Linked DNA regions of Homo sapiens. The protein of the gene in region 1 binds, or shares a complex with, the protein of each later gene. Each region holds a gene or a part of one and is shown in the gene's direction. Other genes may lie near its edges. The genes, in order: PHF12 and HDAC2.

Region 1 (16,226 bases):
TAACATGGCACTTCTCCTGAGATGCCTCTCTTACCTTTCACATGGACCTCTGCCTACCAGTGCCAAGTCTGCCTTTTCCACCATCACCAGCACTACTCCCCTTTGGCCTCTTGTATTTACACTGAAGTGGATTGAAATAATACATCCTCTGGCCTTCATCAGCTCCTGACATTCAGGCCCTATCATGATTCGTAGTGGAAGACTAGGTCCTACTCCAACTCCAAATTATCCCTTTCGTATATATGACCCTTTTTATCTCCCTCCACCATATCCCTGAGAGGAGGAGGAGAAAGATTTTTCTGTCTCATTTTACAGATGAAGAAATTCCTGCCCACCAGCCTGAGTCACCACAAGGTCAGAGGGGATCCGTGGCAGAAATAGGACAAGATCACAGGTCTCCTACCTGGAGATCAGTGTTAAACCTTCATTTGACCACTCTATTTGGAGTCCTGGAGGAAAATGTACTATCAGATATCCAGTCCTACTGAGTACACTTAATCTTTTTCCATTTCCCCACTTTCTAAGAAGTGTCACTTATTTTGAGCAAAGTTTTTATTTTTAAAACCATTCAGGAGGTCAGAAGGCTCTATAGTGATCTCACTGATTTTTTTTTTTTTTTTTTTTGAGATGGAATCTTGCTCTGTCGCCCAAGCTGGAGTGCAATGGCGCAATCTCAGTTCACTGCAATCTTTGCCTCCCAGGTTCAAGCGATTCTCCTGCCTCAGCCTCCTGAGTAGCTGGGATTACAGGCACATGCCACCACACCCAGCTAATTTTTGTGTTTTTAGTAGAGATGGGGTTTCACCATGTTGGCCAGGCTGGTCTTGAACTCCTGACCTCAGGTGATCTGCCTGCCTCGGCCTCCCAAAGTGCTGGGATTACAGACGTGAGCCACCGTGCCTGCCCCATTGATTTTTACTATTGGTCTCACTAAATTTATTCTCACTGTGTTACCTTTTTAGCCCTTTACCCTATACTTTATAGATGTTGTATGTCATACAATGAGTTAATGTTAATGATATATATTTTGTATAGTTATTCCTAACTTACCATGCTTTTTGGTGATTCTCTGATGCAACAGTTTTGTCAGCTTTAGTTCAGTTAGAGTTGTGTCAACTTTAACAGACCAGTGTTCCAAGTGACCAGGTAGATGAGTCTGTGATATGTGAAGGCCTTTTACAGTTTTGATTAGTGGTCTACCAGGACTTTGTAGCACCCATCTCTTTGTTTCATGGTACTTTTCATGATGGGCCCACCTGTTCATTTGCACAGAAACGAGAGCAGAAAAAGGAGCTGGGTCATGTCAATGGACTGGTGGACAAATCTGGCAAACGGACTACATCCCCCAGCAGTGACACTGACTTGTTGGACAGATCGGCCAGCAAAACTGAACTAAAGGCCATTGCCCATGCCCGGATCCTGGAAAGGAGAGCCAGCAGGCCTGGCACACCCACATCCAGCGCCAGCACAGAGACTCCCACCTCTGAGCAGAATGATGTCGACGAAGACATCATTGACGTGGATGAGGAACCAGTAGCAGCGGAGCCAGACTATGTGCAGCCCCAGCTGAGGCGGCCCTTTGAGCTGCTGATTGCTGCCGCCATGGAGCGGAACCCCACCCAATTTCAGTTGCCCAATGAACTGACTTGTACCACTGCACTACCAGGTCAGCCAAACCATCATCATATCCCTTCCCAACCCCAGTTTCCCCAAAGGACCAGCACAAGAGCAGTGCTGCCTGTGGAGTCACTGTTCATGTAGCTACTGTCTTGGGTTCCTGTTCCTAGTTCTGCTTGGAGAGATCTTTGAAGGTCTTAGCCATTACAGAGCTTACTCAGTTTTCCATTTTCTCAGTTTCTGAACTTCTTTCCTTCCCCTCCCCCAGAATTATCTTTTTCCTTTTTTTTTTTTTTTTTTTTTTGTGAGTCTCACTTTGTCACTCAGGCTAGAGTGCAGTGGCACGATCTCGGCTCATTGCAACCTCCGCCTCCCAGGTTCAGGCGATTCTCGTGCTTCAGCCTTCCAAGTAGCTGGGACTACAGGCGCATGCTACCATGCCTGGCTAATTTTTGTATTTTCAGTAGAGACAGGATTTTACCATGTTGTTCAGGCTGGTCTTGAACTCCTGACCTCAGGTGATCTGCCCACCTCGGCCTCCCGAAGTGCTGGGATTACAGGTGCGAGTCACCACGCCCGGCCCCAGAATTATCTTTTAAAAAAAAAAAGTATTATACATTCACATGGTTCAAAAATCAAAAAATATTAAGGGCTACAATGAAAATTTCCCTCCCACCCGTCTGCCATTTGCCTACTTTCCACCTTCCTGCTCTTCACAGGTAACCACTGGTTGATTCTTGTTTATTCTTCTCAAATTTCTTTGTGCATGTAAAAGCAAATACAGATATATGCTGATTAATTTTCCCTTAAGTAACATGCTAGTTAAACCATTCTACACGTTGCTTTTTTTTTCTCACTTTAAAATATGTTCTAGAAGTCTTTTCATATTAATATAGAATTTTTTTTTTTTTGAGACAGAGGCTGCACTGCACTGTGGTGCAGTGGTGTGACCACAGCTCAAGCAATCCTCCCACCTCAGCCTCCCAAGTAGCTGGGACCACAGTTGTACACCACCACACTCAGCTAATTTTTATATTTTTTATAAAGACAGGGTCTCACTATGTTGCCAGGGCTGGTCTCAAATTGTGCTCACACGATCCTCCCGCCTCAGAGGATCCCAAAGTGCTGGGATTATAGGCATGAGCCACTGCGCCTGGCCTTCTTGCTTTTTTTAATGGTTGCATAGTAGTTCTTTGTACAGATACGTCATAATTTATTTAACCAGTGCCATTTTCTATTAATGGACATTTTCTATTAATGGACATTTAGGTTCCAAATCTTTCATTACTACTGGTAGTGCTTCAGAGAATAACTTTGTAAATACATCATTATATACATGTATAGATGTGTGACTATGTCTATAGGACAATAAAATTGCTGGGTCAAAACTATATAGTTTTGATAGATATTGCCAAATTGTCCTCCATTCTTTTTTTTTAAGTCCTGGCTTCTTGATACTGTAAAGCTTCTAGGTCTTAGTTTTTATTCCCAAAGAAAGTGAAATTGGTAGGCTTAAGAAGGATGCATATAGAATCAAAGCTTCTCTGATTTTTATGAAAATGTGGGCCAGGTGTGGTGGCTCACACCTGTAATCCTAGTACTTTGAGAGATCAAGGCAGGAGGATTGCTTAAGGCCAGGAATTGGAGACCAGTCTTGGCAACATAATGAGACCCCATCTCTCAAAAAATAAAAATAAAAAAGTTAGCTGAGTTTGATGGCCCACACCTGTAGTCCTGGCTCATATGGAGGCTGAGGCAGGAAAGTTGCTTGAGCCCAGTAGTTCAAGACTGCAGGCCAACTCCACAGAATAGTCCTTGTTGACTATGTGGCTTGGACATTTACATTTCTTAGGTTGCCTGTATCTAACCTAGCATTTCTGACCATTTTATGTTTGCAAAACAGTTAGATGTGTTTCTGCCATAGAACAGGTGACTTCTGGTTCTGACTTACGTATTAGTCTCTTTTTTTTTCCTCCCTAATCTTTCTTTTTTCTAACTTAAAATCAACCCCAGGGGCCTCAGAGAGCAATTCATGCTTAGGCCATGACACATGCTTAAGATCTGTTTTTGTCACTTAATGTTGTTTCCATATTGCAGGCTAGGAACTCTGAAGCCAGGGATAGCTCAGCACCATCATTTTCTTTTCTAGGTTCTAGCAAGAGGAGAAGAAAGGAGGAAACCACAGGGAAAAATGTTAAGAAGACACAGCATGAATTAGATCACAATGGTCTCGTTCCCTTACCCGTCAAAGTCTGCTTCACGTGTAACAGGTATTTTCTTTCATACTAAGGGGCTCTTTCTCATTATTTAGCAGATGATACTTTTTCTCTCATCACCTCTTCCAGACCATGTATGTTAAATGTGAACAGCCCATATTCTGATAGTATGAGTACATGGAGACTAACTAATGGACTGACGAGAGCCTTGAATGTGTATGTGTTAACAAATTTTCTGAAGAATCACAGTACAGGAGTACTGTGAACTGTGTTGAGGCCGAGCACGGTGGCTTATGCCTGTAATCGCAGCAATCTGGGAGGCCGAGGCGGTCAGATTGTTTGAACCTGGGAGCTTGAGACCAACCTGGGCAACACAGTGAAACCTTGTCTCTACAAAAAAAAATTTTTTTAATGAACCAGGTATGGTGATACGCACCTGTAGTCCCAGCTACTCCAGAGGCTTAAGCAGATTAGCCCTGGAGGCTAAACTGTGATCACGCCACTGCACTCCAGCCTGGTCAACAGAGCGAGACCCTGTATTTTAAAACAAAAACAAGGGGCCGGGCGCTGTGGCACATGCCTGTAATCCCAACACTTTGGGAGGCCGAGGCAGGCTGATCACAAGGTCAGGATATTGAGACCATCCTGGCTAACATGGTGAAACCCTGTCTCAACTAAAAATTCAAACAAACAAAAAAAAATTAGCCGGGCATGGTGGCAGGCATCTGTAATCCCAGCTACTCTGAAGGCTGAGGCAGGAGAATGGCATGAACCTGGGAGGCGGAGCTTGCAGTGAGCCAAGATCGCGCCACTGCACTCCAGCCTGGGCGACAGAGCAAGACTCCGTCTCAAAAAAATAAATAAAAATAAATAAAAACAATGGCCCGGTGTGGTGGCTCACGCCTGTAATCCCAACACTTTGGGAGGCCGAGGCGGGCAGATCATGAGGTCAGGAGATCAAGACCATCCTGGTCAACATGGTGAAACTCCATCTCTACTAAAAATACAAAAATTAGCTGGGTGTGGTGGCACGCACCTGTAGTCCCAGCTACTCAGGAGGCTGAGGCAGGAGAATCACTTGAACCCAGGAGGCGGAGGTTGCAGTGAGCTGAGGTCACGCCACTGCACTCTAGCCTGGTGACAGACCAAGACTCCATCTCAAAAAAACTGTGTTTACACACTAGAACAAGAGGAGTTGGACTTAAACTAAACATTAACTTGAATCACTAAAGATAAGTTTAAAAGTAGTATAAGGATCTATGATAGTGTGTATTGGACTGGATGACTTCCAAAAGCCCCTAGGGCTGCCCCAGTTATAGTCTCTGGGACACTGGTTTCCTTCAAATAGGATCTCTTTGACAGAAACCAGCTGCTTCAGTTACTGAAGCTGGACTTGTTGGCTTGGGTGTGTTAGAAGGACTGTATTATGGTCAGAGCAGGGTAGCAAGAGAAAGTAACTATCAAAAAGAAATGTTTCACAGCAAAAGGTATAGGGAAAGGGAACTAGATAGTAGAGTGGCAGAACTCTGAGCCAGGACAAACTGTGGCTCCAGTGCATCTTGGGGACCCCAGGAGTATTGTAGTTACAAATCGTAGTTGTCATTTGCTTAGTCCTCTTTTGAACCCTGCTTACATGAATACATTACAAAATCATCTTTCCAGCACACCTCTAATTGTCAGTTCTGCTGAGTGCTTCATGCAGAAGAGAAATATTTTCTTGCTATAGTTAAGACTCCAGAAAGGTTGCTAGTGATTTTTTTAATGAAGTAGGCTCTCTCTTTTAAGAAGTAGGAAGATCAGAGCAGAGTTCACTGTTTTCCCCTAGTGAGTACTGAGCATTGATCATCCCTACTCTGCCACTTTAGCTGTACTCCAAATAAACATTCACTTTCCCGCAAGACATGTTCTTCTTAGAAGAGAGAATAATGAAGAACCTAATGGGAGCCCCCAAATCCATCCATGTTGTTTTTTTGTTTTGTTGTGTTCTGTTTTGTTTTGTTTGAGATAGAGTCTCTCTCTGTCACCCAGGCTGGAGTGCAGTGGCGCCATCTTGGCTCACTGCAACCTCCGGCCTCCTAGGTTCAAGCAATTCTCCTGCCTCAGCCTCCCGAGTAGCTGGGATTACAGGTGCCCACCACCACGCCCAGCTAATTTTTTGTATTTTTAGTAGAGACAGGGTTTCACCATGTTGGTCAGGCTAGTCTCAGTCTCAGTCTCCTGACCTCAGGCAATCCGCCCACCTCGGCCTCCCAAAGTGCAGGGATTATAGGCGTGAGCCATCGCACCAGCCCCATCCATCTTTCTAATCATAAATGTAACTGAATCACTGGAGGAAGATAGGGGAGAATGTTAGGATCAAGGAGGGGAGAATGTTAGGATCAAGGAGGGGAGGCTGTTCCACAGGTCAAAGTTAGTTTGAATTTTCCTTTTCTTGCCACAGAAATGGCCAACATCTCTTTTTTGCAGGAGTTGCCGTGTGGCTCCTCTCATCCAGTGTGACTATTGCCCTCTCCTGTTTCACATGGATTGCCTCGAGCCGCCGCTCACTGCCATGCCCCTGGGCAGATGGATGTGTCCGAATCACATCGAACATGTGGTGGTAAGCACAGCAGTGTCCATTCAGTCCTCAATGGGCATAGCTGGAGCGTGGACTGATTAGCAGAAAGCATATTAAGGTCAGCTTGGTGCCAAGTTCACCACATTGTCATAGGTACTGGTTTCTGCAGGCCACCCTACTCAATTCTGATCATTTTGACATATTTCAGCTATGCTTTTTCTCACAATGTTTTGTTTCAGCTGCCCATACAGACTTAACTCACTAGTGCTTGGTTGTTTGTAAGTGACTTATAGGGAATTAAGCAGTTGATGTTATAGCCCTAAAAGGGGAGTATATTAGATCCAACCTTAAGGAAATAAATCGTTGGCTGTCTGGGGTACATGTGTCCCAGGCACCAAATGAAGTTTAGTAAATAAGCTGTTGAATGAATAATAGTGTGAAGGTCCTATTGCTTTCTCTTCCAAGAGTCTTGGGTTTATTTTCCAGACTGAGGCTAGAAAAGAGCTGTCACTTGCTATCTCCAAAAGAAGTTTAGGACATCTCTTTATAGGCAGTTAGAACAGTCACTCACAAGATTGAATGGGAGAGGATTTGAGGAGGAGGAGCTCCCTCATAAGAGCAGCCTTCCAAATTAAAAAGGCTACTGCTTAAGACATTGTCTGTCAAATGATGATAACCATGGAATGACCGTTGGCCTTCATGGCAGTGTGCTGCTGACCTTGCACTGAGAGGAACCTCGGTTAAAGACTTGCACACATGGAAGAGAAGAGTTACTTTGTGTTCTTTTGACTCATGCCAGTCAAAGATTTTTCTAGGAGGAAAATCTAGTCTTGTTTTGCTTCCTTGTTTCTCTCCTAGTCTTGTTTTGCTTCCTGATGAACCAGAAAAAAAATGACCATAAGCAGTTTACCCAAATGTGAAACTTAAAGAGCAGCTTTCTAGCAGTTGAGAAATTCTTAGTGGGTTAAATTTTTGTTAGCCACTTAAAGGTTTTTCCTGATTTATGAATTAGGCAGCTGCCACAGCAGGTCCTTTCTTTTGAATTAAAATGTAGGAGCCCAGATGTAGAATAGGAAAAGTGGCATAATTTCTGTATGCCTTCGTATATTATTGCAGAAACTCTTCTTTCTTTTCTCCTTTTGGCTTCTAAGAGCAATCCAAGGTTTTCCCTTCCAGTAGAGGAAGACTGATATCAAGATGGGTTAACTTATGCTCCTTGGTACCACGGAGTAGGAGTAGAGCAGAGCACACGGATTTCTGGTTCTGACCCAGTTGTCAGCCAAGCTCCTATGTAGGACACAGTCCTGCTTTTCCTATTAGAGAGAGGCCCTTCCTGGGAAGGGAGTGTGGGTCTCTTAAGGGTCGAAGCATACGTCTTCTCTGAAACCTGTGCTGCTATTAGAGGGCCCTGACAGAGGCTTCTCTGAGCTGGAACAGAAGACTGTCAGAGGCCGAATTTGGAAGGGCACGTCTTGGCTAATTTCTCCTGCCTTCCTTAAGGCTCTCTAGGGAACAGGAACATATTGGCTCTCTTCCACTGGACTGGGCAGGGCTGAGTAGGAAGTCTCATCCATGTTCCCTTGCTCTCTGACAAAGAGTGCCGACATCCTGGTCCCTAATTGAGGGAACCTATGTGGCTGAGGGCTTCTAGTTTTTAAACACAGGGAATGGGGTTAACTGGGATAGGAGGTGCCTTTTGAGGCTCACCACAAGGTTGTGTCTGCTTTGTCCCTAGCTGAACCAGAAGAATATGACACTGAGCAATCGGTGCCAGGTGTTTGATCGTTTCCAGGACACCGTTTCGCAGCATGTCGTCAAAGTGGACTTCCTGAACCGAATCCACAAGAAGCACCCCCCTAACCGGCGTGTGCTCCAGTCGGTCAAAAGAAGAAGCTTGAAGGTGAGTCACAATCAGGTGCAGGCAAGATGGTAGTCTGCCTGCCATCATGGGTTAGACAGAGGATCACTGTCCCAATTTTACAGGCAGGGAAACTGAAGCCCCAGAAATAGGTTTGTGGTGTCTCGTGAGTAATGAGTGTGACCTTCATTTTAATACTTGGGGATGATGGTCAGGATTATGAGGGCCGAACCTCAAGTTAGCCTTCGAAGTCTACCAGTCTCTAGTTTTCCAAAGGATAAGCACTCTTCAGCCCATCCCACCAAACCCAAATGTGCTCTGTTGTTACTGCCACCCTCACCTAACGCTCATTCTATCTGTTCCTGTTAGATGGCCTCTGTCCAAGAGGCAAAGTAAAGGTGGGGATGATTAAGCAGAAAGAGCCATGTGGAAGGTGAAGAGCTAATCCCAGCTCAGGAACTTAAGTGGAAAATATCTAAAGGAAACTTGAATCTATTTTTCCAGGCTGCTGTTAATATATCACCAATGCTCCAAATTGTGGCATAGCTGTAATAATGCCTAATATTTATATGCTCTTGACATTGGCCAAAGTGTGTTTACAGAGATTGACAGAAAAATTTCCCTCCTTGAAAAGCATTTGGTGGTAGTGAGGATGTTTTTAAACCATTCAATCCCCTCATTCAGTTAACCTAGAGGGTCCAACACTATATACCCATATATAAACTTGTTTTTCTCTTTTGAAATGATCCCACAGTCTTATGTGCTAACAGAAACCAGCACTTCTCAAGTATGGCCACTTGGTGGCAGCCACATTTTAAAATCAATCACACTGGCCAGGCGCGGTGGCTCACGCCTGTAATCCTAGCACTTTGGGAGACCAAGGCAGGTGGATTACCTGAGGTCAGGAGTTTGAGACCAGCCTGACCAACGTGGTGAAACCCCGTCTCTGCTAAAAATATAAAACATTAGCCTGGCATTGTGGCAGGCACCTGTAATACCAGCTACTCGGGAGGCTGAGGCAGGAGAATCATTAGAACCTGGGAGGTGGAGGTTGCAGTGAGCCGAGATCGCGCCATTGCACTCCGGCCTGGACAACAAGAGTGAAACTCTGTCTCAAAAAAAAAGGTCAGTCACACCACTGCCATCACCTTCAGTGGGTATCAGCACTAGCAAGATGCTAACTGTTGAAAATTGTATAACAAACTTAACTGGGCAAATATTTATACATCAGTGGAGACACAGGTTTTCCAAAACTAGATTCAAATATTTCGGAAATGGATGATATTAAAGGTAGTATGCCTCATCTCAGTGAAACAGATCTAAAAGTAATCCAGACTGTGTAATTCACTGTGTAGATTTGTCAGAGAGCATAGCTGCTGAAGTGAACGGGCCAGGAGACCTTGATAAAAATCCCCTTGTTGTATGGTGCCCCTCCCACCTTTTAAGTGTTTCTCTAGTGAGGAAACTCAAAGGGCATGAGTTACCTGCAAAGCATTTTGTACTTGGACAGTTTGAGAGTGAAATGAGGACCGTAGCACCATAGAACATTGGTGAAGAACCCCAGCTCTCTCCTGGAACATTAGCCTTTACACTTGATTCTAGCAATTCAGGAAAAATCTGCTGAGAACTTTGTATCTTCGTTGCGAATTTCTCTTCCACTTAGCCCTTCACTCTTCCCCAGGGGTATCCTGTTCTTACCCCAGGGGTAGTGGAATAAACTAGTCCACTGTTTATTCCTCCTCCTCTCATTCCTGGGTGATCTCAGAAAGCCCATGGCACCAGCTAAGGCCATCACCAGCCCATGGTGATGACTCTCAACTCCATATTCCATGCCTTTCTCCTTATATCCAGACTCATATCTGCCTGCCCATCCCACAGATATCTCAGGATGAACCTCCTCCATAAGACCAGAAGTCTTCTGCCTCTCCACATCTGCTCTTCCTCCTGTATCTCCTATTGCAGTAAATAACAATGATCACTACTCAGTCCCTCAAACTAAAATTCTGGGAACCATTTTCAGTTCTCCCTTGTCTACCATAAGGATTTTGTCACCAAATCTGTTGGTTCTCTGGATGTTTTCCAAATCCACAAAGTGCTATCACATCTCTATGCCTTACATGCTTCTCCCCCTCCCTTATTTTTCCTTTATCTGCCTGGAAGATCCTTCTCAACTTCCAAGTGTCAACCCAAATACTGACTTCCTATAAAATCATCCCCAATCCCAAATTCCTGTCCCCCAAACTAAAATAAGCACTATGTTTTTAATAGCACCTTAGACATGCTTCTCTTCTAGAACCCATTACCTTGTGTTGTAATATTTCTGTGTTTATCTCCCCACTAGACTGTGAGCTCCTTGAGGGCAAGTCTTAACTTTTATTCATCTCTGGATCTCTAGAACTTGGAACAGTGCCCAGACACAGGAGGTGCTCAATAAATGTTGGTTGAATGTATGAATGACTCTTTGCTTGTGTGGCTCTTTCATTCTTACATGGTGTGATTCAGAGTGTGGCTTCTGTTTTTGTTGCACAAAGACGTCTTTAGTTGTTTCATGAGTCATGAATGAATGGATGAAGGAAACTGACATTGATGGAGTGCTTATCATGAGCCAGGCCTCATGTCAAGCATTTTTTTTTTTTTTTTTTTTTTTTTTTTTTTGAGACGGAGTCTCGCTCTTTCACCCAGGCCGGACTGCAGTGGCCCTATCTCGGTTCACTGCAAGCTCCGCCTCCCGGGTTCATGCCATTCTCCTGCCTCAGCCTCCCAAGTAGCTGGGACTATAGGCGCCCACCACCACGCCCGGCTAATTTTTCATATTTGTAGTAGAGATGGGGTTTCACCATGTTAGCCAGGATGGTCTCGATCTCCTGACCTCATGATCCTCCCGCCTCGGCCTCCCAAAGTGCTGGGATTACAGGCGTGAGCCACCGCGCCTGGCCTAAGCATTTTTATCTCTCAGTGACTGCTCACCCACTCCCAAACTTGACACTGAGCAATAAGAACCCAGAGTACCACTCTGAAGCCCTGTCCAGTGCCAGTCTTACACCTTTCAGGCTAAAGCAGAAGACAGAACGCAGTGGTTTCTGTGTTCTGCAGGCCTTAGACCTTGATGAAGGAAAGTGGAGGCCCCACCTGCTATTTCCATTTCTGAGCCTCCTTTTCCTCAGCAGACCCCAGAGTGGATGGTCCCTTGAGCACCAGCACCACAGACAGAACAGCATACCAGGGCAGAATCAACTAGACATGTTGGAACTATCTCCCTCTCCTTCCTCCTTCTATCTATCCTGAACAGGTTCCTGATGCTATAAAATCTCAGTACCAGTTTCCACCCCCTCTCATTGCACCCGCGGCCATTCGGGACGGGGAGCTGATCTGCAATGGGATCCCTGAGGAATCACAGATGCACCTTTTGAACTCTGAGCACTTAGCCACCCAAGCAGAGCAGCAAGAGGTGAGTGAAGGTGGGGCGGGGATTCCAAATCCAACCTTCCTTCTGTGTCACCACAGCTGTTATCAGAAGTAGCCTCAGTGTCATTCTCATTCCAGTCCCCACCCACCCTCATCCTAACCCCTCAAGAGTTGAGTATTCCAGGGGGAACTTCTGGCTCAAATCCCAAAGGCAAGTAAGAGATCTACAAAGGCAACTGGTCTGCTTCTCTCCATCGTTACCCCAGTGCACTGTGAGATGGGCAAATCTATACTGTAGAAAGAGATGAGTAGACCCATAGAGAGGTTAGGTGATAGTGCTGGACATACCACAGGTGCTCGGGGTAATTGCTGAATATTGGTCACAAGTAAGCCTTAAAGGCAGAGTCAAAATGCAGATCCCAAGCTCTGTTGGCCAGAGGGAGTGTTGGCCTGCTGAGGGTACCTATAAGTCTTGCTTGGGAATGGAAATGGAATTCTATCAGGAGTCAAGCACACCCTTTGTGAGCATTCATGATGGGACCTCGGAAACTGCTTGTCAGCTCTGCTGCAGCCCTGGCCACTGTGGCAGGAAGGACCGGCGCCTCTCAGGCTTCTCACCCCCCTCTCCTCTCCTTCCATTGCAGTGGCTCTGTAGTGTTGTTGCGCTCCAGTGCAGCATATTGAAACATTTATCTGCTAAGCAGATGCCTTCGCATTGGGACTCTGAACAGACAGAGAAGGCTGATATTAAGCCTGTTATTGTGACTGACAGCTCAGTCACCACCTCCCTGCAAACAGCTGACAAGACACCTACACCTTCCCACTACCCCTTGTCCTGCCCCTCAGGGATTAGCACCCAGAATTCCCTGAGCTGCTCTCCACCCCACCAGTCCCCAGCCCTAGAGGACATCGGCTGCAGTTCTTGTGCGGAAAAATCCAAGAAAACCCCTTGTGGGACTGCCAATGGGCCAGTGAACACAGAGGTGAAAGCTAATGGCCCACACCTCTACAGCAGCCCTACTGATTCCACGGACCCCCGGCGACTTCCAGGCGCTAACACCCCACTACCAGGCCTCTCACACCGGCAAGGCTGGCCCCGGCCCCTCACGCCACCAGCGGCTGGGGGCCTTCAGAACCACACCGTCGGCATCATTGTGAAGACAGAGAATGCCACTGGCCCCAGCTCTTGCCCCCAGAGGAGTTTGGTTCCTGTCCCAAGCCTGCCCCCTTCCATTCCCAGCTCTTGTGCCAGCATCGAGAACACCAGCACTTTGCAAAGAAAGACTGTCCAATCACAGATAGGACCTCCGTTGACAGATTCAAGGCCACTGGGCTCACCCCCAAACGCCACCCGGGTGCTCACTCCCCCGCAAGCAGCAGGAGATGGTATCTTGGCCACAACAGCCAACCAACGATTCAGCTCACCAGCGCCATCGTCAGGTGAGTGCTGCTCAGCCTTGGGTTGATTTGGAATAATTTTATGCTCTTTCTGGCAAATAAGATTCTAAAAGCACTTATATCCCTGTGAATACTTCAGAGGACTTTGGCCTTTGTATTGTTTGTCTTACTCTCATTTCCGTAATAGAAGAGGAAGCACATGTTAACTTGTCCCGTTTATAAATGGGACTGCTTAGGCTCTGAAAGCTTCAGTGATTTCCTTAAAATGACCTACTGAGTCAGTGGCAGGATTGGAACCACAGCCCAGGTCTCCTGACTCCATCCCATACCTTCCAGGCCTAGGCCTCTGCCTGTTTTGTTCTGTCACCTTAAAAGAAGGCAGGGTGCTCTCTGGAATTACTATGATCAGCCTGAGGTTCTGCGTGATGGCCTCAGTATTGTCAGATCCACACAAAAGAATGGATTCATGCCTGATGCATATTCTCAGAAAGAGTTAATCTGATGAACTTCCATGTCAGGAAGCAGGGCTAGACAGCAGCACTGTCTTTCAGAGGAGCTGTAGAGTGGGATGCCCACAGGGATTGTTCTAGCCCAGAAGCGTGCCCTCAGGCCACATGCCAAAGGGCGGTCCTTCAGGTCTGTACTTGGCCTACTGTGGACCTGCTCTCTCAGCTGTCCCCAGAGAGCACTCAGGACCTTGAAGTTGCTGACCCCAGCATCTGAACCAGGTTTCAGATGCTGCCGGAACCCTCTGTGGTCTCTCCCGTCTGAACTGAAGCCGGCCTCCTAGTCAGCTGGGAGTCTCGGTAACCAGATGATTGTGATTTCTCTGCATGGGAGCCCCTGGTCCCAGGATGGCCCCGCTCCCAGGCTGTTTTCCTATCTCTGTTTATCGCTTAAAACCAGCGTGGGTAGATTCTCCACGCCGTGAGTCATATTTCAGTAGGCAAGAATTATAAGGGCAGGCACTACTTATTTTAAAGTAGAGGCAGCAGGGAGGTGGTCATGGCCCAAAGAATGAAGCTGCCCCACCACTTTCCCCAGAGCAGTGGATTTCAGTGGTTCTCAGTGCTCTGGAGACTCCTGCGTGCCTGGGTGCTTTGTCGTTCCATCTGCCCTTCCTCACCACACGTTTTTAGCTCTAGGAGTTCCAGAGCCTATGGGTTGAGAATCAAGAAGGGAACATCACCTTGGGTCCGAAATCCAGACCTGTCTCAGCAGTGGGGGATTGGACGGTGGGTTTCCCTCAGGCGACGTAAGTAACAGTCTTCCTGCTCCGTCCCCAGATGGCAAGGTCAGCCCCGGCACGTTATCCATAGGAAGCGCTTTAACCGTACCCTCTTTCCCAGCCAACTCTACTGCCATGGTGGACCTCACCAACTCACTTCGAGCATTTATGGATGTCAATGGAGGTGAGTGAATGAGCTGCTGCTGTTCCACCGTTTGCTATGTTGAAGGTGCTATTCCTATACAGCATTCAGCTCATTTCAGAAAGGGAGGGAAGGGACACCTGATCCCAGAGGCCTAGGGGGAGATGGGAATGAGGAGTATCCTTTTGGATGGGGGGGCGGGGTGAAAAAGAAAGCTCCTTCTGTAGCTCTGCCTTCTACATGTGCATATACACATAATCAAAGATGAAGGGAGGACAGAGCCAAGCTGAACCAGTGAGACGAGAACAAAATCACTTTAGGCAGATCACCTGGATTTGCAGAATAAAACTAAGATCCTCACTCCCAAAGGAGGGACCTCATCTGTGGGAAACCCCCAAAGTCCAGGAGAACAGGGACAGATCTTGATCTCTGTGAACACAAGGTGGGTAGAAAGTTCAAGTCTCAATATCAGACATCCAGGCCCTCCCCCACAGACAGGCAAGTGGTTTATTCCACTCTGCCTTTCTAGGGGCACTTTAATTAAAATCAGTCCACCCAACTACAGGAGGCAGCTGCACAGGCTGCATTGGGGCCCATCTCACTGCAAATGGCAAGTGAGATGCCCAGCTGCAGATCCTTGTACGCTCTGCACTCAATGCTGTTTGAGTAAAAATCACTTGGCTGGATTTTAGAAATGCCAAACTATTTGCTCTGTGACCCTGATTTGCTTCCACATTCCACTTCCCATCTCAGCTGCTTTTTAATCTTTCTCTTTGGCTAATAGAAATCGAGATAAATATGCTGGACGAGAAGCTGATCAAGTTTCTGGCCTTGCAGAGAATACATCAGCTTTTCCCCTCCCGGGTCCAACCTTCACCGGGCAGTGTCGGGACACATCAGCTGGCTTCTGGAGGGCACCACATAGAAGGTGCGCATGTACACACCTGTCACCACATCATCAGATCTCCCCTCTACGTGTGCGAATGGTCACCTTGCCTCCATGGAGAATCTGAGCTTCCAGTATCTCAAACCTCCTTGTGTGCTTTTCATGGGCTTAATAAAGCACCATGGTTTTTTTCTGAAGAGAGCAGGAACAAGATGGCAACCACAGCTTTCTGATCAGACTTGGGGAAGTCTGCTGTAACTTTCTTTCATATATAAGTCCACTTCGAGACACAGCAAAGCAGCTACCAGTACCTTTGGGTATATGTAGTGTACTTTCTGCTTACTTGCTTTCAAATATTTGAATTAGAAGGGCTTCCCGACTGAGTGCAGTGGCTCACACCTGTAATCCCAGCACTTTGGGAGGCTGAGGCGGGAGGATCACTTGAGCCCAGGAGTTGGAGACCAGCCTGGGCAACACAGTGAGACCCTATCTCTACAAATAATTTTAAACTTACCCAGGCATGGTGGCATACACCTGTAATCCCAGCTGCTTGGAAGGCTAAGATGGGAGGATCGCTTGAGTCTGGGAGGTCAAGGCTGCAGTGAGCTATGATTGTGCCACTGCACTCCAGCCTGGGTGACAGAGTGAGACCCTGTCTCCAAATAAATAAGTAAATAAATAAATAAAATTTTAAAAAGAATGGCTTCCCAAGAGGGAACTTTTCAAGTTCAAGTTGAGAAATAGAATAACACTAGGCCAACCTTCTGGAAATTTTCCCCAAGTGGTTAACTCTGTTTCAGATATGTCTGAGCATTGGCCATTAAGAGCCTTGCTGCTTCAAAGTGTGGTTCGCAGACCAGCAGCATCAGCAGCCCCTGAGAGCTTGTTAGAAATGCAGAGCTCAATGCATTGGTTTTTT
Region 2 (16,226 bases), on another chromosome or scaffold:
CTGCTTATTGTTACTTGTTCATTAAGCCAGCTTTGGGTTCAGACATATCAAATAGGCTTAAAGTTCCTACTGTGTGCCAAATAGACAAAAGATTGCTCAAGTCCTAAGAAGGAAATAAAAGACTGCAGGTATAAAGTAAGAGAGGGGGCCGGGTGCAGTGGCTCACGCCTATAATCCCAGCACTTTGGGAAGCCGAGGCGGGCAGATCACAAGGTCAGGAGTTTGAGACCAGCCTGGCCAACATGGCGAAACCCTCTCTCTACTAAAAATACAAAAAAAAGTTAGCTGGGCATGGTGACGGGTGCCTGTAATCCCAGCTACTTGGGAGGCTGAGGCAGGAGAATCGCTTGAACCCGGGAGGCAGAGAGGTTGCAGTGAGCCGAGATCATGCCATTGCACTCCAGCCTGGGTGGGTGGCAAGAGCAAGACTCTGTCTCAAAAAAAAAAACAAAAAAAGTAAAAGAGAGGGGACCTTTGATAGTGTAATCAGAAAAGGGAAGACCTGAAGGAAGAGAATGGGCCAGCCTTAAAAAGAGTTTACTACATAAGATATTACAAATAGCAAAGCCAGATAGTTATTAATAGAACTTGGTGCACTTAATGGGAAGGAAGACAAGGAAAATGTGGAGTCCCATGTTAGGCAGTAAAAAGTGGGACTGCACAAAACTGTGTAGTAAGAAATTTGACTTTACCCAGAGGTGGAAAGCCATTGAAAGTTTCTCAAATAGAATGCATTCTCTCAAAATAATTGGTAAGGAGTTGTGGAATATAGGCTGGAAGCAAGAATTGAACACATATTGGTCCATATAAAATGTAATGGTTGCATTTTAGATAGAAATAGACATATTTAAGAGAGATTTGGGCCTCAAACCAATAGAACTTTTTGATGGATTAGAAATGGAGTTGGAGCTGAGGAATGGTGTTAGAGAATGAAGGATGACTCCTAAGTTTCTGGATTGAGCAGTTAGGTGGTATGTGGTACTACTCACTAAGATTGGGAATACAAATAAAGAGCTCTGTTTTGAACATCTTATATTTGAGATCCTTATTGAATTCAAGTGAAAAGACTGAGAAGAGAGTTAACCTCTGTGAGTTTATAATCCAGAGAGGAGAGTCTAGACATAGAAATTTGGGATTTCTCAGCTTATATCAGGTGAAGTATTGAGACTGAAAAAGATACAGCATAGACAGACGACTGGTCCCAGGACTTAACTCCCGAGAGAAGAGAATTTAGGGCAGAACTATTGTTCACTGATGAACCCAAACCCTTAGAACAGTACCTGCTTGGCACATGGTAGGCTCTTGATTTATTAAATGAATGGCTGAACTGAAAACCCTTGATGTTTAAAGGTTGGTGGAGGAGTGGCCTTGGGGTACAAGTAAAATCCCAAGAAAATGGTATTATGGAAGCCAAGGCTCCGAATGTCTCAAGGAGGAATAACCTCCTTGAAATATGTATTAAAGATGTGTTAATATGTATAAAAAATGGATAGTGGGCTAAGTAGTCTGGAAGATGAAAATAATAAACTTTTTTCTTTTCTCTTGTTTTTTTTTTCCTGAGTCTCTTTTTGCAGTCAACTTATCTTTGTGGCTAAAGGTACATTTCACAGTTCTGAAATCCAAAATGACCTGAAAATTGAAAAAAATTTTGGTAACTCATTTGGAATCAAAATCTTAACCTGAATCAATGTGAGGCTATTTATGATCTTTATTCCTCTGTGAATACCGTGAATATTCACACTTTTTTGCTGTAGAAATATTAATGTTTGATTATATCATGCCACCCAAACTCTAGGCTATTACATAATATATGGCAGGTGTACCATATTATCTCTACAAAATCTGAAAAAGTGTAAAATTTGAAACATATCTAATTTGAAGGAATATGGATAAGAGATTGTGGACCTTAGTAGACACTTCCATTCTGTTAGTTTCTTGAAGAGTGAGCAATTTGTAAAATTTTGCAGATAAATAATTCTTTACAGTAATTTCTTTGCATTGACAATTAAAGTTTGTTGTGTTCAAGGAACCACCTTGAGCTGATTTTTCTGAATGTTTATTTCATTGGTAAAGTATTTTTATGTACAGGTTGAATATCCTTTATCTGAATTCTTGGGACCAGAAGTATTTCAGATTTGGGGAGGTTTTGCAATATTTGTAATTATTTACCAGTTAGCATCCCTAATTCGAAAATCAAAAATTTGACATGCTCCAGTTAGCATTTCCTTGACTATTAAGTTGGTGCTCAAAACAGTTCAGATTTTGGAACATTTTGGATATCAAATTTTTGGATTAGGGATAATCTGTATTTTGATGCAAATCAGTAACATTTAAAATGCCCAAATTATTAATACATTACTGACCATTTAAATGATGAATAAAAATTGTAGGGTCTTAAAACTTCTTAGCCTTTTTATACTTTATGAAAAAGTGGGCTGGGCACAGTGGCTCACATCTGTAATCCCAGCACTTTGGGAGGCTGAGGCGGGCAGATCATCTGAGGTCAGGAGTTTGAGACAAGCCTGGCAAATATGGAGATACCCCGTCACTACTAAAAATACAAAAATTAGCCGGGTATGGTGGTGGGCGCTTGTAATCCCAGCTACTTGGGAGGCTGAGGCAGGAGAATTGCTTGAACCCCAGAGGTGGAGGTTGCAGTGAGCCAAGATCACATCACCGCACTCCAGCCTGGGTGACAAGAGCGAAACTCCATCTCAAAAAGAAAACAAAGTGGATGCCTACAAAGTAGCCATCTAGAGAATTGTGAGATACAGAATTAGTGGGAAAAAGTTGGAGATGGTTATTTTATAACGCCTTTATATTTTAGAAGAATTCTTTTTTTTTTTTTTTTTTGATACAGAGTCTCGCTCTGTCACCCAGGCTGGAGTGCAGTGGCACGATCTCGGCTCACTGCAACCTCCGCCTCCTGGGTTCAAGTGATTCTCCTGCCTCAGCCTCCTGAGCAGCTGGGACTACAGGCGCATGCCACCACACCTGGCTTTTTTTTTTGTATTTTTAGTAGAGACGGGGTTTCACAATGTTTGTCAGGAAGGTCTCGATCTCTTGACTTCGTGATCTGCCCGCCTCGGCCTCCCGAAGTACTGGGATTACGGGTGTGAGCCTCCACGCCCAGCTAGAAGAATTCTTGGTAAACCAAAAAATTATCTGTAGCTTGGCTGCCCTGTATACATGTATCATTTAGGTTCTTTGTGTATTCTTTGTGGGACTGGGGTCCCTAAATTTCAACAGAGAAACTTGTTGAAAGCTATGCGTATTCGTATACGATTTGAGGACCCTATTAGTAAAAAGTAAATTACTCTGATATATTAGGTACAGTTTCTTGTGTTCATTTTCTTTAAATTAACCAAGACCCTAAGCCTTTATTTAAAATATTTATATTTCATATTATGTCTTTTTTTCAGCCTTCACCCTGCCATTTCTAGTGAATCTGTAAGTGTCCTTGACATTCCCTGTTGTTATTACTTAAGAACATTAGCTGTGAGCTGCCCTGCCAGAGTTTGAATCTAGCTCCTCCACTTGCTGGCTATGTGACTTAGGCAATAATACCTGACTTGTCTGTTTCTCATCCTTCTTTACTATTATACAATAGGAATAATGTAATAATACCCACATCATAAGGTTATTGACAAGATTAAAAGATATGTGAAGTACTTAATAGTGCCTTCTAGTAAGCACTCAACAAGTGTTAATTACTGCTTTTTTTTTTTTTCAAACACACTTGCTCAGAAATTGCTACTGTAGTCTCCAATTATTGGGGCCTGGGGCTTTTCACTGGATTTTCAGTGTGCATCAAATAACTAGAGTATTTGATGTTATGATGTGGTAGATGTTAGAGACATTTCATTTGGGTAATTGTTACACAGAGGCAGATAGATGGAAGTTATTGTTTAGTTTGTGTCTTTTCTGTTTTAGGTGATATTGGAAATTATTATGGGCAGGGTCATCCCACGAAACCTCATAGAATCTGCATTTCTAGTGAAGACTAGACTTTCATTATTTTTACTTTAATGATTTCTTTAGTAGTGATAACTAAGAAATGCCTTCCCTTGTATTAATTTAATTACATGATGCTTTGTAATAACACTAGTGGGTTTTCCATATCTAAGAAATGATGAGACCAGGCTGCTTTCAAGGAACTATATATCCCTTGTATTGTCACCATGTAAGGTAGAGCTTTATGGTAGATTCTTTCTTAATAGGTAGTTTATTTTCTGCAATCATAGCCTCTTAATTATAATTGCAGAGGAATGTTGCAAAGGGCCATGGCCCTGCTTTGCTAAACTCTATATTGTTTCTTAGCCTTGTTGGCACCTGCATTAAAAAGGTGGCTTTCCCTTTAAAAGACTTTGTATATGAATTGTTTTCAGAAGAGAGCTGTGCTGAAAATGAAGTTAACTAAAATTAGAGGTGTGATACCAACAAAATCAAGTATTTATGTTATTAGAAGCATGGATTTTGTAAAAGCTGATTGTTTATCCCGTACTGTTATCAAATATGTAGGAGAGAGGACAAAAAAGTTTTTGGGGTTGTTTCCATTAAACAAACAAAAGGTGTATTTAGGGAGGACTTTGAAAGATTTAGTGGATAAATTGCATTTTTTATTCTAGCTTTTATTGTAATATATAAACCCGTGTTGAAATGATAGACTTCAAACCATTAAAATAGCTTGACTGTCCTGACCCTGTGGGGAATTAGTTCCAAGACTTCCACAGATAGCAAAATTCATGGGTGTTTAAGTTCCTTCAATAAACTGGTATAGTATTTGCATATAACCTATGTATATCTCCCCTTACACTTTAAGTCATCTCTAGATTACTCATAATACCTAATACAATGCAAATGCAGTGTAAATAGTTGTTACACTGTATGATTTAGGGGAAGATTACAAGGAAAAAAAGTCTCTACGTGTTTCCAGCAGACACCACCATCTATTTTTTAAAAATATTTTCAGTCTGCAGTTGATTGAATCCACAGATACAGAGGGTTGACTTTATATATTTGAGAGGCTTCTTGTTATTTACTATTATAGGAAACACTGGAGCTTTACCTAAAAGTATTAATTTTATTGAAATTTAGTTGATGAAAATCTGTGATTTTGTTATTTTCTCTTTTTTAAATCTTATGCATAAGTTTAAAGACATTGTGATATAAGATGCCGTTTAAAAAGACAGGCTAGGAATTACAACTTTTTAGTCATGAAGAATGAGACAGTATTTTTATTACCTTGAAAAATGTAATGCTGTGTCTTAGTGGAGCAAAACCTCATTTAGGACCTAAATTTCAGTTACCAAAACTTCCCTGATGGGCTTTAATATGGACACGGTATGTTTTAACATGCAAAACGCCAATTATGAGATTTCTGAAATGCCAGCAAATCATCCAAAAAGCAGTATTTGCTGAAAAAATTTTAAATCATACCAATAAAACTCAGAGAACTTAAAAGCATGTGAATTTGCCAGAGAATACAGAAAGCAGGCATCATTTCAAGGAACAGAAATTTTAAAAATTGGGGGTAGCTAAAAATCAGAAAAGCTTGCTTTCCTTAATCTACAAATAAATATAATGTGTAATAATGGAGTCTTCAGCTGGTAAAAGTGTGCGTAGCGTCTTAGTCATCTGATACAGTTTGAAAGTTGCAAAATAAATCTAAGTTGCTAAGGTTTTAAATAAATTTTGTTAAGTAGTAAATGCCTTCTAATGATAGACATACATAAATTCAAATAGTTCATGGAGGGTCTCTTGTCTGTATTGTTTAGTTTGTGTCTTTTCTATTTTAGGTGATATTGGAAATTATTATTATGGACAGGGTCATCCCATGAAGCCTCATAGAATCCGCATGACCCATAACTTGCTGTTAAATTATGGCTTATACAGAAAAATGGAAATATATGTGAGTATTCCTTTTAATACATATTCAGCACTGATCTTTTTTATTTTTTTTTAGCTACTGTGAAACTTTGTCTATTATTCCCCTTTTGAGGGCATTTAGCAGATGAAAAGATCTGGAAGAAAACAAACTTCTTTTTTCGTTTATTCTTAGGAGATGAATAAGAATGAGAGCTATACCCTCTTTTTCCTTTTCCTTTAACCATTTAAAAAAGTTCCCCCTACCCTAGGCTTTCATGGTTCTGGAGAACAACTCAGTATAGCAACAACTCAGTGTAGCATATTAAGTATTTTTTTTTTTTTTTTTTTTTTTACAATAATTGTTAATCTGCCTGTGCTGCTGAAAAGAGTTGACCTGGGACTGTTACAAAATAATAACACATAAAATTAATCCCACAAATATTTGCAGGGCATATAATACATATGGAATACTGTGTTAGTGTGGCCAAGCATAGTACAGATAACACAAGTGCAACAGCTGCCTTAATGTTTTTGTAGATAAAGATGAGGGTATGTATAAACAAATACAGACACGACAATTAGCTATTTGGGGAGAAAAGAAATATTTAAAACAATTAATGCTAGGCAATATATGTGAATATGTGAATTATTTTCAGTTACATGTAGACATTTAGAGAAGAGGGGAAGTTAGAATAAGACTCAGTCTGGAAGTCTTGTGGAAGAATTGTGTCATACGTGAAATTGAGCTCTTCGGAACAAGGAAGATTAGGATAGAAAAAAGGACGAGAGGTCGTGAACAAAGATTTAGAATTGAAAACTCTTGTAGTGAGTGATTTCATTGATGAAATCACTGGATGTTTTATCATGGAAAAGGAGAGAAAGTAGAGTTTATGAACATATGGATTTGACTTTTTACTCGAACTGTTTCCACTAAAATAAGGAGTGATTAAATCATAGTTGATATGCCTGTGTAATGCTTTTAAAGGAGTTTGAATTAGTTTTGAGATTGATTACTGTTTTCTAAAACACATATAAGTTTGGGTTAGTTTTGGAATTTATATATTTTGTTCTGGTAGACTTGGTTCTTTTGAGGGGACCGATAGGGGAATTTGTATATTTGTTTGATAATACTGATATAACCGGTTGTAATTCCACAGTTCTGACATTTATTTCTCTTCACAGAGGCCCCATAAAGCCACTGCCGAAGAAATGACAAAATATCACAGTGATGAGTATATCAAATTTCTACGGTCAATAAGACCAGATAACATGTCTGAGTATAGTAAGCAGATGCAGAGATGTACGTTTCTAAGTAAAAAGTAGTTTTGCTTTGATAAATGTAAATTAGTATTTTTAGGAGCTTAGAATGATCTAAATCTGAATATTTTTCCTGTTGGTCTAATATGTTACAGTTATTTACTGATTTGAAAAGTCATTTTAACACTACTAAAGCTACTTAAGAAAAAAGTAAACCTATCTGAAGCTTATTGGTTTGCAAAACTGCTGTTTGGGTATTCTTCTACTCCTAGTTTGCTCCCCTGATAACTTTGGGTTAATACATATTGGTAGGGAGACCTCACTCCCTTACTCCCTCGCTTCAAAAAAACAAAAACAAGATTACACTTTGATTAGCCTTAGCTTGGCATGTACATATCTCTTGTCTTGTCTTTGTGTACTTCAGTTAACCTGGACTATAATACACATCTCTTTTTCTTTGTTAAGATATTAGTGAAGCTTTTGATTCTACGTAATGTTCTCTTGTACAGGTTAAAAGTATTTTATTTTTAGAGATTAGTAACAAATTGGCTTGAAGGTAGAATGCAAAAGTCAACCTAAAATTATTGGAACAGTATCTTTTAAAGCTTGATACCAAAGTTCATTCTCATTAGTGTTTGTATTGACTGACTTCAGTGATGATTATACTAAATTAGTGTAGGTGCTAGACATCTCATATTTACAACCTCATACACATTTCTGCCATATCTTGTTTGATTTGTTATAATGCTACAATGTAACTAGAACATGTAGTATTTAATTTTTTTTTTTTCAATGAAGATTCCAACTTAGATGCAAAAGAGGCATGAGTAGCCCTTGGGCAAACAACATAACAGGATTGATTTAAAACCCACATAATAATGAGTTCTATTAAGCTTATGATCCTGGCCAGGTGTGGTGGCTCACGCCTGTAATCCCAGCACTTTGGGAGGCGGAGGTGAGTGGATTACCTGAGGTCAGGAGTTCGAAACCAGCCTGGCCAACATGGCAAAACCCTGTCTCTATTAAAAAAGTACAGAAAATTAGCTGGGTGTGGTGGTGCGCGCCTGTAATCCCACTACTCTGTAGGCTGAGACAGGAGAATTGCTTGCTTGAGCCCCAGAGGTGGAGGTTGCAGTGAGCCAAGCTCACGCCATTGCACTCCAGCCTGGGCGACAGAGTGAGACTCTGTCTCCAAAAAAAAAAAAAGATTATGATCTCTCTGTGCAGTAAGAAACTAAAATTCATTTCTTATAGTGCTTGTGACTTAAGGGTATACAAAGATATTAATATACAAAACAAGGACCCTTATTCTTGAAGAGGTTACAATTCAAGGGCATAGGGAAAGACTAAGAAAGGGTTACATACATCTGCCATATCCTTTCATTCTCTCAGTGCTAAGGAACTAAATGTGTGATCGTTTATCTGTAAATGTTTTCCTTGTTGTCTTTAGTATCCTATGTTTTGGCTCCCATGAACCTAGTTAATTCTTAGCAACTTTCAAGATCAAGATTAGCCATGGGAATAGGCAACCAGCTGTTACATCTTTTTGGTTTAGTAACTTACTGACATGCATTTCAAAGTTACAGATATTATAGGTATTTAAGGAGTTTCAAAGAAAGTAAATTATAAAGCAATTGAAGTTGCTTTTAGAATGTTAACTTATTGTAATATTAAGGGGAAAGGCCTAGAAAATTTAAGCCTGTGTTTTAATTAAATAAGAATTGTTGTACTTAGACAACTATTGAGTTCTTGTTAATAGACAGAAATATTCCACAGATAATCCTGATAAGATTTGATGATCTTTCACAGATAACACTTTAATTACCTTGGATAAAACAATAAATATATTTTAAAGTTGGAAACTTTATATTATACTGTGAAGTGTATGTTTGATGATTGCATCAAGCAAAAAAGTATTTGTGGGAAATAGTTTTTGTAAGAAAAGGCTTTCATTAATTTGCAGAATGTGTTGAAATTAATGAAATCCATCTTCCACAGTTAATGTTGGAGAAGATTGTCCAGTGTTTGATGGACTCTTTGAGTTTTGTCAGCTCTCAACTGGCGGTTCAGTTGGTAAGTGCTAATGCAATCAGATTTAAAAGTTGATCTGAACTTGGTGTGTTATCTTTCGGGTTATTTGTGTAAAACAGAAGTTTTAATGATTGTGAATTTTGATAACAAAAGGAAATCAGTATGTTTATAGTAAAGTACAATTTACTTTCAAACCTCTATGTTTTATGATTATGACTTAAACGCTTTTTAAACTTATTTTCACTTGGAGACTTCATTCATTCCCTTTGTCTTCTAGGTATCATTGTTACTACCACTTTCCACATAAACCATTATTTAATCTCAGGTTGCAGCTCTAGGAGAATATTTTTCTAAGGAGTAACTCCTATTTGTGTTATAGATGATTTCTGTTAACTTTCATGATTTTAAGCTCTTGCTTATGCATGGCATACACTTGTAGTGTTTTTGTCTCATTCTACTACTTTTTTATGATAAATGTTTAAAAGGTCTATCTTGTTTCTACTTCTTAGCTGGAGCTGTGAAGTTAAACCGACAACAGACTGATATGGCTGTTAATTGGGCTGGAGGATTACATCATGCTAAGAAATCAGAAGCATCAGGATTCTGTTACGTTAATGATATTGTGCTTGCCATCCTTGAATTACTAAAGTATGTTAATTTATATTGATACTCTTTTCAGTGATAAAGTGTTTTCATTAAAACACAATAAATAAAGTCTATGGCTTTAAAAAATATTAGGTAAACCATAGGTTGAAATAGTTAATGGTGAATTTTCTATGAATTCATTACAAAACAATGAAGAAATGCAGGAAATTTGCCCAATTCTTCAATTATTAAGACTTAGAAGTGTGGCCAGGCACTATGGCCCAGGCCTGTAATCCCTCCACTTTGGGAGGCTGAGGTGGGCGGATCTCTTGAGCCCAGGAGTTTGAGACCAGGCTAGGCAACATGGCAAAACCCCATCTCTACAGAAAAAAAATTAGCCAGATGTGGTGGCATGCATCTGTAGTCCCAACTACCCAGGAGGCTGAGGTGGGAGTACCTGAGCCCAGGAAGTTGAGTCTGCAGGAAGCCATGTTCCTGCCACTACACTCTAGCCTGGGCAACAGTGTGAGACCCTGCCTTAAAAAAAGAATTAGAAGTGTATAAAAGGCCAGTGCCGTGGCTCATGCCTGTAATCCCAGCACTTTGGGAGGACGAGGTGGGTGGATTATGAGGTCAGGGGTTTGAGACCAGCCTGACCAACATGGTGAAACCCCATCCTACTAAAAATAGAAAAATTAGCCGGGCGTGGTGGCGTGCGCCTGTAATCCCAGCTACTCAGGAGGCTGAGGTGGGAGAATTGCTTGAACCTGGGAGGTGGAGGTTGCAGTGAGCCGAGATGGCACCACTGCAGTCCAGCCTGGGCTACAGAGTGAGACTCCATCTCAAAAAAAAAAAAGAATTAGAAGTGTATATAAATGTCAAAACTCCCATTAAATACCCTTTTTTAAAAGTAGTTTGGCAATTTTCATTTTAGTTAGTTTCAACTAGTAAAAAATGACAATGACCTTGGAAGTTTATATTCTAGTATTTTGGATGTTTTAAACTGAAGACAAAAATTTGAAGCCAGTGTTAAAGGAAATTTTTTTACCTATTGAGTTAGTCTAACTGCCTAACTTCCATATCTGAATGAGGCTTTGTTCTCTACTGATGGATATAAAATTATCTCTGAGTTGTTGAAGGAGTTATTTTTCCTTATCTGTGGCTGCAGTTTGAGAGAGAGATCTATAGAGGTACTTAGGAATTTGGATGTTCGCAATGTTAGTTATTTTTTGCCATCAGTTATGACACATCTTAGCAGATTCTACTTTGTATTATACTGAGCTAGTGTTTTTTGCTTGTAGTTATTCCATGCATGCTATCCATAGAGGCTGACTTTTCAGTCAACTTAAAATTGATACTGACTCCTCAAATAAACAGTGATTGAGCAGTATCAGTGTAACATCTTGCCTGCTCATCAGGAGCAAAGGAAAATCATTTGCAATCATTTGCCTTGTTTTTTAATTGACTGTTGATGTTGGTTCCAGTGTCTTCAACTCTTTGAGCAAGTTCTTGCCCACTCAGCTAATAGTTTTAAACAACTTTAATTTGTCTGGACACATTTTTTTGGGTGGTGTAATCAAACATGATTTAATTAATTGACTTGGTGCACAGCTTTCCTTGCTTATCTAACACGTGAGCCGCTCAGAAACTTTATTTTGATCACAGCCTCATTTCTGTTTTTTTAATTTTGTGAAGAAATTTTGCTGTACTATGGTATGCTGTTTATAGTGTTATGAGAATATTCTTATGAGTGCTTAGTCTGGAAATATCAATTTACATTGTATTGTTTTATTTAGCACAGTTATGGCACCATTATATAATAAATACAATGCTTTGCCATCTAATAATATCTCACTTCACTATACTTCAAAAGGATGACATGAGAAGTCCATTTTCCCCTTATTTTGACATGAGTATACACTGGTAACAAAATGTCATGACATGGTGATTCATGTGACTCCTAAACTGCGTTTGAGTTACAACTGTGTCACTAATCTGTGGTGCTCCAAGCACCAGTTTGAAGTCATGAGAGTACCACATGTAGCCTCTGTCACAGCTAATCGATTCTGCAGTTCAAATGAAGCCATAGGTAATAAACAATTGAGCATGGCTGTCTTTCAGTAAAACTTTTTTTATGGACACTGAAATTTGAATTTTGTATAATTATCACACGTCAGAAAATACTCTTGTTTTGGTTTTGTTTTTAAACCATTTAAAAAATAATAAAAACTTCTTAGTTCAAAGCTGAAAAAAGAGGCAATTGGCCAAATTTGGGCCATGGGCCATAGTTAGCCAATCCCTATTTTATACTATTGAAGATTTACTACAGAGGTGTTTTAATTAACAATCTTGAGTATGGTATAATCTTCAGTTTTTAATATATTAGAAATATGTGCTATGTTTTTGAAGCATGTAGAATAGAACAGATTTCACAAAGAGTAAATATATATTTTTTAACCTACATTGGGCCACAAGTGGGTATTTAAAGGCCTGAGGCTCAAACCTCAGATATTTGAATAACCTCTTAGGCTGAATGTAAAAGGTGATTAAACATTCTGGAATGCAAGAGCTCAAAAATGGGTTTCCTGAATTTGTGGTGCTTCTTCCCATCTTAGAACCTTTAAAGGAAAAACCAAAACTTATGGATTTGTTTTCAGGTATCATCAGAGAGTCTTATATATTGATATAGATATTCATCATGGTGATGGTGTTGAAGAAGCTTTTTATACAACAGATCGTGTAATGACGGTATCATTCCATAAATATGGGGAATACTTTCCTGGCACAGGAGACTTGAGGGTAAGACTAAATTCTGTCTGAAAAAATATTGTGAGATGAACCTAGGAGATCAGTAATCCTATACTTGAAGTAGTATTTTTCTCCTGAGTTAATAATTTGAAACTTGTATGCAGAATTGAATTACTACGTATGCAGTAACATTTGCTAGAATTCACTGTTGCTGACTATAAGCAAAAATTTAGTGAAAACTTAAGGACAGTTTTTTTCTCAGCTGTTTTCTTTGGTTGAATAAATGTTTTTGAATATCCACAAAGCATGAAGCCCTTCTCTTGATGTTCAGTTTGAATCTTCAAAACTACCTGATGGTAGCCTACGTTGCTATTGATTGTAAAGAATGGTGGAATAAAATAGACTAGGTCTTTTTAGGTTCTTCTGCTCCTCTCTTTTGTGATTGGTCTTGATTTTTAGTAGATCTAATTTTAATCTTTTTTTTTCTTTAAGCTTCTAAAATTGGTAATGTATTTAGGTAGAGAAAGGATACCATAGTGTAACCTTGCCTGCCTGTTAACATTAAGTGTATTTCTATTTTATTTGTTATCTTTTTCCATTTGATGCTCTTGTCTTTTATGACTCTGAAAACCACTGGTCAAATCCTATTTCTATAAGTTCATTGAAGGTTTTTTGCCTCACTACACTTTTTTTGAACCTAACTATACAAATGTCGAAATTTATTCAATAATTTAAACAGCTGTTTTTAGTTCAGCCTGGATTATATGGGAGATTTATATGGCATTGAACAAAGTTTTAAACTATTTTATTAAGATTATTTTTCACATCTGTGGTATATCATTACAGTTTAGCAACCAAAGTTTAAAGAGTTGCCATAAAGTATTCTTAAGCTGTATGGCTTTTCTTTATTAGATCACAGTGTGATACTTTCTCAGTAAACTCTTTGAGTAAAAGAGTTACCTTACTGAAACTTTTCCATACTTACAAATGGGTGGGAGGTCAAATGTTTGGTTTGAGTTTAAATTATTTAGCTTTTAAAATTGCAGATTTGTAATTTCAATTCCTTGCCAGTAAACTCCTTCAATTTCTCCCTTTCCCCACCTGGTCTTATCTTACAGACCAGTGCTTCTCAAACAGTGGCGCCTAAACTGAGGAAAGCAGATCAGCATCACCTGGGAACTTGTTAGAAATACACATTCTTAGGGCCCAGAAACTCTGGGTGATTCTTCACCTTAAAGTTTGAGAACCACTGCTGTAAACTGATAGAATACATTTGTCAACAACCATTACATCCTAGTGGAAGTCAAGCAAAAGTCTTCTCTGTTTTAAGCTTAAAGAATAAGACAGTATCTTTGCAGTGTGATGCTAGTTTATCTCAGAAGTGGAAAATGGAAGCTTCATTTAATTTCTGACAGGTGGATGTCACTATGGTCTCATCTCAGTTATTATTCAAAATTCTTACAGTTTGAAGTTTTTGAAAATATTAGAGAATGCTGTTTTAGAAGGATTTGAGAATGGCTTTCAACATCTCTTTTTCTCACTTAAGATTTTACAATCGCTGGGCCGGGCGCGGTGTCTCACGCCTGTAATCCCAGCACTTTGGGAGGCCGAGGTGGGAGGATCACGAGGTCAGGAGATCGAGACCATCCTGGCTAACACAGTGACACCCCGTCTCCACTAAAAATACAAAAAATTAGCCGGGCGTGGTGGTGGGCGCTTGTAGTCCCAGCTACTGGGGAGGCTGAGGCAGGAGAATGGCGTGAACCCGGGAGGCGGAGCTTGCTGTGAGCCGAGATCGCTCCACTGCACTCCAGCCTGGGCGACACAGCAAGACTCAGCCAAAAAAAAAAAAAAAAAGATTTTACAGTTGCTGATGTTTTCAGGATAACATTTGAATATTTTAAGCATGTCCCCATAACTTCGTAAGAGAATTAAAATCAGTCATTACATTATATGTACAGCTGTTTTTGGACTTTCTGTGTAATTCACGTGTATCTTTGGATGTTAATTTAATAAACACTCCTTTTTCTGCCTGCTAATTCATTCTCATGCTGAAAAGAAGGCTACTCTGAGTTTAGCTCATTGTTGAAACTGTTTGCTTTAATTCAAGTAGTCTAGTGGAAGAAAGAAAGGTGGCATAGTAGCAGTTGCAGAATGAAACCTGGAAGAGAGAAAGCTATGTCTAACAAGGGCAGCAGCTCTGAGTTGCCAGCTAGTTAGTAGCAGTTAGGATGAGAAGTGCTGACCAACTTTTCTGTATTCTGAAATCTTAGGGTCAAAATATATTTCATCTGTGTTTTAACTGTGCAGTAGGACTGTAAAGTTTTCACAATACTTTGGCTTTTCCATATTTGTATGGTTTGTATTTAGTTAATCTTAATAAAAACTTAGACTTCAAGAAAAATTGGGAGAGGAGGTGTGTAATTTTGCTTGCTTTCTCCTCGTTGGATGTTGGGTCTCATAACTCTAATATTGAGGGTAAATTTTGCTTTTGTAAAATTGGACTGAAGCTAAGATCATTCCATGAGAGGTTCAGAAGAACTTGCACAAGTGCTAGTAATCCTGAAAATTCATGGATCTTCAGACATTATCATTCAACGCACATAAGAATTAGGCACCCCCCCCCCACCCCACTCAGGCGCAGTGGCTCATGCCTGTAATCCCAGCACTTTGGGAGGCTGAGGCGAGTGGATTACCTGAGGTCGAGAGTTCGAGACCAGCCTGACCAATATGGTGAAACCCCGTCTCTACTTAAAATGCAAAAAAAATTAGCTGGGTGTGGTGGCGTGCACCTGTAGTCCCAGCAACTCAGGAGGCCGAGACAGGAGAATTGTTTGAACCTAGGAGGCTGTCTTGGCTCACTGGAGTGCAGTGAGCCGAGATCATGCCACTGCACTCCATCCTGGGCGACAGAGCAGGACTTGATCTCAAAAAACAAAAAAAAACAACAAAGAGGCACACCCCAATCCTTTGGTATTGCAGTTAAAATACTATTTTGTAGTAATGTCTGTACTATACAGTATCTTCTAGGAATACGTATACACACACAGAAATGCATATGCACACCTACAAATGCATAACATATACAAATAAGTAAGTATATATAATATATGTATATATCATTTAAGAGTATATGTAGCTGGAACCTTTGCGTCTTTTGAGAGAGATTAATGCCTGGAGTGGTACTCATTCAACAAGTAGGAACAAAATTTGTTTGAAGTCCAAGTCCAATTAAGAACAAATCTGAGGCTGGGCACCATAGCTCACGCCTGTAATCCCAGCACCTTGGGGGGCCGAGGTGGGTGGATCACCTAGGTTGGGAGTTTGAGACCAGCCTGTTGAACATGGAGGAAACCCTGTCTCTACTAAAGATACAAAATTAGCCTGGCATGGTGGCACATGCCTGTAATCCCAGCCACTCGGTAGGCTGAGGCAGGAGAATTGCTTGAACCTGGGAGGCGGAGGTTGCAGTGAGCTGAGATCACGCCATTGCGCCTCCAGCCTGGGCAACGAGCAAAACTCTGTCTCAAAAAAAAAAAAAGAACAAATCTGGTGCTTTAGTCGGTAGCTGTTAAATCTTCGAGAAAGTGTGGGTCGTTCTTTCATCATAAGTAAACTCATACCAACAGATTGTGAACCACAAGAAGGATTCTGCAGATGATTGTCCGGCAGGGCTTTTTGGCTTAATTTATTTTCCACAGGTTTACTCATAAAGTTGCCTTGTCATCTTAAATATT

The links.
Region 2: the proteins of PHF12 (region 1) and HDAC2 are in contact, whole or in part, in a cryo-EM structure (PDB 8BPB), measured with the Homo sapiens proteins. Residues at the interface, in NP_001028733.1 of Homo sapiens: Met21, Gln25, Met298 (codon at 6,355), Asp299 (codon at 6,358), Cys300 (codon at 6,361), Leu301 (codon at 6,364), Glu302 (codon at 6,367), Pro303 (codon at 6,370), Pro304 (codon at 6,373), Leu305 (codon at 6,376), Thr306 (codon at 6,379), Ala307 (codon at 6,382); in NP_001518.3 of Homo sapiens: Gln27 (codon at 5,825), Tyr202, Gly203, Leu212, Arg213, Pro228, Met229, Arg230, Thr356, Glu358, Tyr359, Lys362, Ile363, Arg366.

What each region holds. Positions count from the first base shown.
Region 1 is NC_000017.11:28,909,349-28,925,574, reverse strand, and holds part of PHF12 (PHD finger protein 12), read left to right. Parts: intron 1-1,272; coding exon 1,273-1,666; intron 1,667-3,766; coding exon 3,767-3,887; intron 3,888-6,299; coding exon 6,300-6,432; intron 6,433-8,125; coding exon 8,126-8,290; intron 8,291-11,537; coding exon 11,538-11,696; intron 11,697-12,297; coding exon 12,298-13,093; coding exon of another isoform or gene 13,094-13,119; exon of another isoform or gene 13,120-13,431; intron 13,432-14,337; coding exon 14,338-14,463; intron 14,464-15,205; coding exon 15,206-15,349; coding exon of another isoform or gene 15,350-15,540; exon of another isoform or gene 15,541-16,226.
Region 2 is NC_000006.12:113,949,591-113,965,816, reverse strand, and holds part of HDAC2 (histone deacetylase 2), read left to right. Parts: intron 1-3,422; exon of another isoform or gene 3,423-3,450; intron 3,451-5,798; coding exon 5,799-5,911; intron 5,912-7,050; coding exon 7,051-7,168; intron 7,169-9,123; coding exon 9,124-9,198; intron 9,199-9,665; coding exon 9,666-9,804; intron 9,805-12,398; coding exon 12,399-12,540; intron 12,541-16,226. UniProt on the Homo sapiens protein: Histone deacetylase that catalyzes the deacetylation of lysine residues on the N-terminal part of the core histones (H2A, H2B, H3 and H4).